Regions from separate parts of the Homo sapiens genome. Here region 1 is linked to region 2. Evidence: fine-mapped expression QTL. A gene starts in region 2. The other region holds a variant in brackets. All regions are shown on one strand. Distances are from middle to middle.

What was found. PIP is the estimated chance that this variant, and not a neighbour inherited with it, causes the effect.
Region 1: its variant is fine-mapped to the expression of GSKIP in whole blood (INTERVAL, PIP 0.99).

What each region holds. Positions count from the first base shown.
Region 1 is chr14:96,267,296-96,272,668 of GRCh38, reverse strand. It overlaps BDKRB1-AS1 (BDKRB1 antisense RNA 1), which reads left to right and starts at 4,089. Exons shown (of 2, transcript XR_007064322.1): 1 at 4,089-4,300. RefSeq lists an enhancer at 2,815-4,014. The variant T/C (reference allele first, on the strand shown) is at 2,545.
Region 2 is chr14:96,360,824-96,366,196 of GRCh38, reverse strand. GSKIP (GSK3B interacting protein) reads right to left here and starts at 2,671. Exons shown (of 4, transcript NM_016472.5): 1 at 2,629-2,671. ATG2B (autophagy related 2B) reads left to right here and starts at 2,856. Exons shown (of 42, transcript NM_018036.7): 1 at 2,856-3,382. The coding sequence starts at 3,221. RefSeq lists a silencer at 2,399-2,748 and enhancers at 1,950-2,770, 2,691-2,985, 4,227-4,296.

The DNA.
Region 1 (5,373 bases), 94 kb after region 2:
TAGGGTGAGGAAGTTTAGCACCTTCAACCTCCCATTTTTCAGAAGAGGAGAACTGGAATTCTCAGTGAGCAGTAGTAATGTCTCCCACAGAAGAATGAGGAAGAAGAATTTTCTGCCCTTCACCAGCTCCCAACCCCAAATCAACATTGACCAAATGGCACTTCTATTCAAAAGACAAGCTGCTCAGGAACCATTTTCTAGGGAGCACTGTGTTGGGCTACAGTACTCAGAGTAGAAGAGCTGGCACTTGATCCCAGACCTCACACTGACGAAGTTGCTCTGTCTTGGGGCAAAGCATTCTGGGCCTCAGTTTTTCCATCTATAAAATGGGCATGATGAGCTTTTTCACATCCTGTGAACTCACTGAAGGTGGGATTTTATATTTTACTTTTACAATTTTACTTTTACATGCCATGTATTGGTCACTCAGTAAGTGTTGGACACACAAAGCCATGAATGAAGAAGCTGCTCTGATTCTGTCTTAGATTGTGGAGGTCAGGACTGGAGTACTCCCTAGTCTGCCATAATTTCACCTAACCCATCAGTGGGGTTTTTTTTTTGGTTTTTTTTTTTAAGATGGAGTCTCATTCTGTCACCCAGGCTGGAGGGCAGTGGTGCAATCTCGGCTCACTGCAACCTCCATCTCCCAGGTTCAAGCCATTCTCCTGCCTCAGCCTCCCGAGTAGCTGGGACTACAGGCATGCACCACCATGACCAGCTAATTTTTGTATTTTTAGTAGAGATGGGGTTTTACCATGTTGACCAGGCTGGTTTTGAACTCCTGACGTCCTTGGCCTCCCAAAGTGCTGGGATTACAGGTGTGAGCCACCACTCTCGGCCCCATCAGTGGGTTTTAATTCCATCTGATGTTGGCCTTGTGCTTGCTGCAGCCTCCTGCCCATTCTCCAGAAGCAGAGTGATAGCTGCCTGGCTGTTGATCACAGATTCATGAGTAAGCCCAGCCAAGACCAGTAGAAGAACCACCCGGCTAAACCCAGCCCAAATGGCCAATTACAGAATTATGAGTTGAGGTGGTTGTTTTAAACCACTAAGTGTGGGAGTGGTTTTTTATGCAACATAGATAACTGATACACTGTGCAAGCCATCATCCATATTCTAGTGAAAGTGATCTCTCTGAAATGCAGTTCCAAACATGCCACTTCCTTGTTCAGTCTTCACTGACTCACATGGCCCAGAGGACAACAGTCACTCCTTGGGATTGGCATACATCTTCCAGCCCTTGATTTTGTTGGCTGAGAACTCGCGTGAGGGAAAAGTTGCAGGTGGCCAACACTCTCATTGTCCTACTTAACTTTAAGATCCAGCTCAAGGAACCCCCTTTCCTTCTGGAACTCCTTGCAGCAGACTTCGTCACCCCATGACGAGACATCTCACACTGAGGAATGATCTCTTTTCTTTTCTGCCTCCCTTACATGCAGTGAGCTCCTCAAGGGTGAGTGTGCAGTAGATGCTTCCTGGATTCTTGTTGCAGCCTCCTGCCAAGAGATCCTGCAGCTTCGCTGGGCTCCTCCAGAGACCAGGAACCCACGTCATTGAGGGCCATCAGTTCTATCATGGGACAGCTCTGCCTGTCAAAGAGCCCATCCTTAAATTAAGACAGAAAGTGTTTCTCAGGATTTTTTTCTCTTTGGTCCCTTTGGGGTAACACTAAGTGCATTTGTTCCTCTCTCCACATAAGTCTTATCTTCTGTGGTAAGCCCTCTGCCGCCATGTGTCTGGAGGGTGTGCTGTTGCATCCTCTCACCAGTCTGATCCCTGTCTTTGGAATCAGCCAAGAGCTGGACACAATACTCCTAATGGACCCTGTCCAGTGCTAAATTAAGGGAATATGACCTTCCTCATTTTAGAGGCTATACTCCTTTGAATGCAGCTGAGAGCTGGCAGCTATTTTGGCAGCTACAGTACACTGAGCCCCTTGTTGACTGAAGCCCTGAAATGTCTTCCTCTCGTACTTGCTGGGTCCCAACCAATCCTTCCTGATAGTTTTCTGTCCCCTGAAGCTCCTGAAAAGTAGGCTTGGCTTCCTGTTTACTGCCTTAAACACAATCCTGGCCATAGGGAGTCTCTGCAATCATCATGGCCACTCAAATGAGAACCCTGGCACTCAGGCCTCTTCTCTGACCTCAGCCTGAGACTGAGACCTGTCACCAGGGCCCAGCGGGCATCTTGGGTCTGAACAGAGCCCTTCAGCAGGAGCCCTGCTTACTCGGTGACCTTGGACAAGTCTGCTTGTCTCTGGACCTTGGTTTCTTCATCTGTAAGGCAGAGTGGTTGAACTTAATGATGCATTCTTTTTAAGGTTTTTAGTAGATTTGCATACAGTGATAAGAAAGATGCCTTGTACTCATTCTTTTTTTTTTTTTTTTTCTGAGACAGGGTCTCACTTTATTGCCCAGGCTGGAGTGCAATGGCACAATCATGGCTCACTGCAGCCTTGAACCCTGGGCTCTACTGATTTTCCCACCACATTCTCCCAAGTACCTGATACTACAGGTGTGCACCCCCATGCCTGGCTAATTTTTG[T/C]ATTTTTACTAGAGACAGGGTTTCACCATGTTGCCTGGGCTGGTCTTTGAACTCCTGGGCTCATGTGATCTGCCTGTCTCGGCCTCCCAAAGTGCTGGGATTATAGGCATGAGCACTGTGCCCGGCCCCATTATTCTTTACTCAGTTTCCCCCAATAGTAACATCTTACACAAGGATCGTGCCATATCACAACCAGGAGAGTGACACGGACACCATTTTTGGGATTTTATTCAGACTGTGCTTTGACATGCATTCATTTCAGTCATAGTTAAAGCCTCTTCTGCTCATAGGAGAAAATGGTTGTTGGTGCTTGCTGGGGTGGCGCTGTCCTGGTGTCTCACATACATCTCTGACCTTCCTCTTGTCCTTTCTCGCCTTTCCTTCCCTTTCTTTGCCCATTACCTCTTTCCAAAAAGGGAATAAGGCCGTCCTTTTGGGTCACTTAATTTTCACAACGACACAGTGAGGCACTGCTCTCCTCATTCCCATTTTACAGATGGGATGCCGAGTTTCGGTGGTCGGCCAGGCCCATGCGGTGGTGGAGTGAGGACTGGAACAGTGGCATGTGTGACTCAGAGACCTGGACCTCTGACCGGCTGCACTGTGCACTCTGCAGCCCCGCGGTGAGGCCCTTCTTGGGCAGGGGCCTGAGCTGGGGGTGGTCCGGGGAGGCAAGAGGATGCTGAGAAGGAATCAAGGGGGTCTGGAGAAAGGGGCTGGGCACAGGGAAAGAGAAGGGCAGGAAGGAGCTGAAGGTGCACAGAGGCCAGAGCGGAGCTCAGCCGGAGCCAAGGCTTGGATCAGCCCTGGTTGGATGCCCAGGCTCCTCGGAGCTGTGGTGGGAGCAGGGGTGGGGAGGAACACTTTCCAGGGCTGCTTCCGACCTGCTCCTCATCAAATTTGTGACTCATCTCCGGAGAGCAAGAGCCTGCCTGTGGCCATTGCAACATCAGGGAGTTTCCCCGAGGCTGGGATTTGGAGGGCCTTAGTGCCACCCACTCCCCATGATGGATTGGGGTGATGATGGGGCAGGGTGGGGGCAGTTTTCTTACCTTCCCACTGCAGAGAGCAGTGAAGGCCACATATGGCCCCTGATCACGCGGTTCTGGAGCCCAGGACAGACCCAGAGCTGGGAACGGATTGGAGTGAAACCTTGTTCTCTCTTTCTACTTGGCCCTTCTCAGGGAGAGAGTGGAAGCCCACATGGGTGCTGGAGCTGGGGATGCTGGAAGACTATTTGCTAATTCCTCCCTCCACCCCAGGTGTTAGCACCACAGGTGTGGCCTGGGCCTGGCCCCATATGGAACACGCCAGGTGAACCTATCAACCAGATCCATGGGAACTCAGATATATTACCTTTTCCCACAGCATCGATCCTTTTAGTCAAGGCAGAAATTTCTCCCTCTGTAAATGAATAACTGGCCTTCCCCACAGAAGGGCAACAGAATTCTACTGTACGGGTTTGCCAGTTTCTCTCCCACTGTGGGGCCATTTGCTGGGCTTCGGTAAACGTTACTTATGTGCGTCTCATAAATCAGGTGTCTGAGTTCTCAGGCTGTGGCTGCAGTCTACCATTGAATTACATCCCGTGAGCAATGTTGTCCGATTTCACCGGCCAGCACGTTCTTCTCGAGTGTGGGATTGGTTTTTGCAAGACCTCGAAAGGATTTTGATAAGCCACCTGCTTAAGGCCGGCTGAAAAAGAAGAAAGGAGGGCATATGTGGGTCAGCTCACTCGGAATAGAAGAGGAATCAGGTATTATTTTCCCTTTCCCACTCTCTATTCCTGCCTGTTCCTGCCTACTTTTGCCACTTTGCCACAGAGCCTTTGCCCAATGAATTCCTGCCTGGGGGCTTGGAAATCACATTGGTGTTGGAGTCAGATGAGTTGGGTGAATCCAGCCTCTGCAGTCTGAGCAGGCACTGCCTTCCTTAGCCTCCTCTTCCTCACCTAGAAAGTGGACATCCTGAAACAGACCTCACAAGGGAGTCAGGCGATTAAATGAGATGACTGAGCCTACTCCTGTGTGTGGCTGCTGAGTCGCACTGGGTGTGCTTGGGCAGGTCTTACTGCTCTCTGTTTCCTAGACTGTATGTGAAGGGATGGTCTGGATGAGGGGTTGCAAACTTAACCTCCCATAGCTTCCATGCGTGTGAACCTGATGGGAGGGCGCCCTGTTCACGGGGCCTCTGCTACACAGCACCAAAGAATTGGAGCCCCGGGGGGACCCTGGAAGGTCAACTCCAAGGGCCCAGGGATGTTCCTCTCTTTTGTTCACTGCCATATTTTCAGTGCCCAAAACAGTGTCTGACAAAGTAGATGCTTAATAAATATCTGCTGAATGAATGAAATTGAATCAGTGTTGCTGGATGTTCCAAACTTTCAAAAGAAACTGGAAAGCTGGCTCCCAATGGGGAGTTTCAGTACTGGTAACCAACTCAAGAGCCTGGGGGCTTGGAGTTTTAAAAAATACCATGTGGTTCAAATTAAACACATGTGCAGGCTGGATCTTGCCTGTTGGCTCAGCTCCAGGCCTTCTGACGACACTCTGCTCTCCAGGAAACCTGCAGGGGCTGGAACACTGATCACAGGGTTATCACTGATGAGGTCCTGGTGGCCCAGCCGCTGCCAGCCTCTCAAACCCTGTCTCCAGGCTCCAAGAACATGGCATTCTTTCCATTCCTGGAATGAATGAGTCTTTGCTGCTATTCTGTGAGGACCAGCCCTTCCCGTGCAGCTGTGGGGACTGCCATTCTCCCCATTCCCCCAAGTGTCTTGGAGTCCAGTCACTACACCCTCTCCCCCACTCCATGGAAACTGACCTTGGA
Region 2 (5,373 bases):
ATTTCTTGCAAGATCCCACCTTTGCCTTTTCATACCACCTTGTTTGTATTCCTTTTATGGCAAATATTAGAATTATTATTTACAAACATGTCTTATCTTCAAAATATATCCAGAATCCAACTGCTTCTAACTAATCATTTTCACCGCTACCGCTTTGGTCCAAACCACTGTCATCTTTTCCTTGCATTACGGTGATATCCTTCTAACTGGTTCTGCTGTTTTCACTCTGGCCCTCCCACTTCCACACCAGACTATTCTTAACAGCAGTTAGCATGATCCCATAGAAACTTAGGCCATACTGTGTCACTCCTCTCCTAAATCCACCTCACCCAGAGTAAAGGCCAAAGTTCTTTTTATTTTTTTAAGATAGAGTCTCACTCTGTTGCCCAGGCTGGAGTGCAGTGGCACAATCTCGGCTCACTGCAACCTCCGCCTCTCGGGTTCAAGCAATTCTCCTGCCTCAGCCTCCCAAGTAGCTGGGATTACAGGTGCACGCCATCACACCTGACTGATTTTTTATATATTTTTGGTAAAGACAGGGTTTCACCATGTTGGCCATGCTAGTCTTGAACTCCTGACCTCAAGTGATCCGCCCACCTCGGCCTCCCAAAAGTTCTGGGATTACAGGAGTGAGCCACTGTGCCCGGCTCCAAAGTTCTTATCAATGGCCTACGAGGCCCTACATGATGTGCTTCCTCTGCGCCCCGCCCGCCCCACCCCCCACCCCCAAACTGCCCAGCTTCTACTTTTTCCTTCACTCACTCTTGATGTTCCCTAAATTCATCAAGCATTCTCCCGTGACAGGGCGTTGCACTTGCTGTTCCCCTTGCATGGAAAACAACTCTTCCAGGTATACATGTGCCTCACTTCCCAGCTTTCTCCAAGTTTCTGCTAAAATGTAATCTTATTAAACAAGAGAATTTCTCTTACCATCTCATATAAAAATGGCAAGTCCCTTCTCTCTTCCCCATCTCCACTCCCTTTACATTGCTTTCGTTTTTCCAACAGCCCTTATCACCACAAAGCATATTATTCACTCATTTATTGTATGTCTCCTCCCTTCAATAAAATGTAAGTTCCAGGAAGGAAGAGATTTATCTGTTCACTGCTGTAATCCCAGTACCTAGAACAGTGCTTGGCACACAGAAGGCAATCAATAAATATTTACTGAATAAATGAACAAACTTCCACTTTATTGAGAGAAAGGGTCTTGCTCTGTGGTTCAGGCTGGAGTGCAGTGGCATGATCATAGCTCGTACGATCCTTTCTGATATTTGAAATTGCAGGCACTCTATGGATAGCGTCAATGCAATTATGCAGCCTCAAAGTCCTGGGCTCAAGCGATCCTTCCGCCTCAGCCTCCACAAGCAGGTACCACCATGCTTCCGTTTTAGAACATAAACTCCTTGAAGGTTCGGCCTGATTCTTGACACTGTTCACATGATCAACTGTGGTGACTTTCATTTAATGGACCTTAACAAATATTTCTGAATGAAGAGCAAGGGAATCTAAGTTACTGAGAATACTTGAGATGAGTCTACAAAGAATGAGGGAAATCAACAATCCAAGCAACTGCATACAAAGTACCCTGGTTCTAAAACGAAAAGGTGGTTGTGGAAAGGGGAACCAGATGTTTCTCCATCTACCAATATTTTGGGCTGTATTTCCAAGGCATTCATGAAAGTTGCCGAGACAGTAAACATTTCACTCCTTAAACTGGTCGTCTTAATTCACTGTGATTAAACAGCTGTATGTTTCAGGACTCTGTTCAGGTTCGTGCCCTACTCATATCATTTAATCTTCCCAACAAATCCATGCACATAAGATTTTAATCCGCTCACACTCGGCAAAGGAGGCAACGTGGGCTCGGGGAGGGCAGTGGCCGCTCAAAGTGGCTGGGCGGCTAATAGGTGTCAGTGCCGGGATTCTAACGAAGGACATCTGGCTTCTGGGCCATAGAACACCCGCACCCAGGCCTTTCGAGGTTGACTTAACTTAACAGCCGGCTCCGCCTCTGCAGGAGTTACCTCCCAAAAGGCAGAAATACGATTGCGCAGACTGCCAGAACAGCCCAAGTTCTTCACCCAGGTTCCGGCGGGGTCAGGAGCCTTTAGCATTTCTCAAGGAATGCAGTTTTGCCCACAGATGCTTCGAAAACCCAAGTTTCCTGATCGTTGCTATGACACACCCAGGATTAAGCGAGCGTATGCGAGAAGCGCTCTGCAAACCGCCAGGCAAACGGCAACGAAGAAGCTGCCTCAGAAACAATACCTGAATGAGGCGGGGGCCGAAGAACTTGCTGACAATGGGCACCGGTCAATGCTCGGGTGCGGGCGGGGATGCTCGAGAAGGGCTCCAGTCCTCCCAGCGGAGACGGCGGAGCCCCAAGTGTGCGTTTCCGGGGCGCCGAGGTCTGAGGGGAGCCGGGAGAGCCAGGCCGGCCAGACCGGCCCCCAGACCCCTCTTAACACGGGCGCGGGGCCCCTGCAGCCTGCCGCCCCTCTCGGCCCAGCCAGCTGCATGGCGTCGCGTCCCCATCCGGAAGGCCTGACGGCCCGCCGGCGCCCCGAGCCCCTAGCCCTTCTCGGGGGCCGCCCCTCGCCCGCAGCCACCCCGGCTGCCGCTCACCTGCGCGCCCGGCGTCCTCTTCTTCCTTCCTCCGGAGGCGACTGGAGCCGACCGGCGGTGCCGCCCCCTCCCTCCCCGCCTTCTTCCGCCCCGCCCCCTCGGAGCCGGAACTGCTCCAGCCCCCGCCCTTCTGCCCGCCTTCCGCGGCCCCAGTGTGGCGTCACTTCCGCCAGCGCCCGGCGGCGCGCCGGGAGTCTGGGTCTCGTGAACGCGCCAGGAGCGTCCCTACAGCCGGGAACGCGCCTCGCGGATGACAACAAATTCGTCGCGCGGCGGCAGTGGCGGTGGCTGCCTCAGCCCCTGCCGCCTCCTCTCGCGCTCTCTTGCACTCTCTCCGAGCCGGTTGGGACCCTCCTCGGAAGTCCCCTGGCCTGGGGCCAGGAGGACCCCTCTGCGTCTTGCCTCCGCCAGGCCCAGCGCGAGCGGTGCGGCGCCGGCGATGGGGTCTCCCTGAGGGACTCCCGGCACCAAATAGGGATGGAGGGGCCGCCCCAGGCTTAGGCCCCGCCGCGGCCTGGAGCCGGAGTCGCTACCCCGAGGCCGGAGCCGTCGCAACCCGCAGCCGCAGTCAGCCCAGCTGCCAGCAGTCACTATGCCTTGGCCGTTTTCGGAGTCCATCAAGAAGAGGGCCTGCCGGTACCTCCTGCAGAGGTACCTGGGCCACTTTCTGCAGGAGAAGCTGAGCCTGGAGCAGCTCAGCCTGGACCTGTACCAAGGCACCGGGTCCCTCGCCCAGGTCCCCTTGGACAAATGGGTAAGAGCTGCCGGCGGCGAGCCGGGCGGGGCTCGCTCCCCTCTTTAGGGCGCTTTGAACCAGTGCCATCCAAGATTGGTGACAGTCAGTCCCTCCTTGGGAATTGTTTGGACCCGAGTGTGACACGGCTCAGAGAAATGTGTTAGAGTGTTGTTTAATCTGTTTCTAACAAGTTTGCTCTCCTAAATCACGTGTTCCGGAAACTTTAACAGATGTAATGGAATCTACACTGTGGGAATAATTGAGTCAGTGCTTCGGGGGTCTGTGAAGCAGGCTCAATAGGTCCGTGGGAGGAGGTGACCAGAACTGTCCCTCGGGATGTGAGGGGCCGCAGGGTTTTGTGGCAAACAAACCCTGCCTTGTGGGATGACATTCTGGAAGGATTAAGGATGAAGAGGACCTTTGGATGTCAGAATCCCTAGTTATTTGTTTTGGGTTGGCTGCTTGCGCACCATGTTTGCCTTGTTTGTCATCGTGCAGCGTTTGCCATCTGGAAGAAAGTTAGGTGAAGGCCTCTTGTGCCGGTTTGCCTGCTTTTGCTTGATTATATGTTTACAAGATAGGTTTGTGTATCCAGCCTGTGAATGGTCGTCTGGCCCTAGTAGTGCTGTTGAGTTATGCCTCTTTGCTCCACGTGACAGATCGTAAAAGCAGGTGTTGCAAAAGCGCTGAAGTTGCAATTTTCAGACATTTTAAAACCTGCCTTCTACTTGTCATCTAGAGGCTGTGAATTCACTCATTGCTATACAGGTGCTTCATCTGAATTTCGACTCACCACATGCAGTCGTACCTGCATTTGTGTGTTCAATGCATAGCATTTTACTTAAAGTATATTCACTTTTGGGTTTGACAGGAATAGAGTGACTTCTACCCTTTGCCCAACCCTTACTTCCTTAGCCACAGAAAATCTTAAATTATGGAAATACCTTATTATGACCCTTAAGCGAATTTGTGCTAGAGACTATAAATCAGTATATAATTTTATCAGTATGTACCTGACATAAACTAGGGAGAGGACACAAGATAGTGGAAAGAGCCCTGGTTTGAGAGCAGTAAGACCCAGTCGCTCACCAGGAGGTGAGAGTCCTACCCCTGGAGAGACTCTCCAGACCGCCACAATTAGCCGAGTGATAATGGACTTAGCAATTCACCTGAGTTCAGTAAACACTAATGGAGCACACACTTCATCTCTGTGTCGTCCGTCTTATGGTATTGTATTCCTGTAATTCTTCCAAAAGATAGGGATTCTGAAGGATATTTTTGAATTCAACAACCCATGATTCTATACTTTTGATACAGTTATGAATAGGTTATCTTGAAAAAAGAGGGTTCAGGATTTATTAATGCCTTTTGTGGGTGGAAGGGCTTTGTATGCATTATCCTTTAATGACTTTAACCCTATAAGGTGGGCATTAATATTTCCATTTTACAGATGGAGTTAAGCAGTTTGCCCCATCACACATCTAGCAAGTATTACATCACATGGCCTAAGATCAAAAGAAAGGCAGTTAATGTTTATTGAGTATGTATTTATGTCAGGCATTGTACTAGGCACTTTCATTTGTGAGGTTTTATTTAGTCCTTATGGGAAATCAGAGGTAGTGATATTTGAATTTTATAGTTTGAGTTCAGAATCATTGGCAAAATGATTTATTACTAAACTTAATCTGAGGATGATGTTTTGTTCTTGATGGGCGGGTTTTGTAAACTAAAATGATAATGTCAAAGCATCCAGTAAACATTTGCTGTTGCTGATTTATTTTCATGTGCTGTGTTGATGGTTAGGATAAATCTTAGTGTGACCCTTAGATACAGCTGTTCAGAGTTCTGATTCCAAATTCAGTTTATTTTCACACTTGATTTTTTTTTTTTTTTTTTTTTGGTAGAGGATTCATTCTCTTGCTTTGTTGCCAAAGCTGGTCTTGAACTCCTGGTTTCAAGTGGTCCTCCCACTTCTGCCTCCCAAGTGCTCAGATTACAGGCATGAGCCA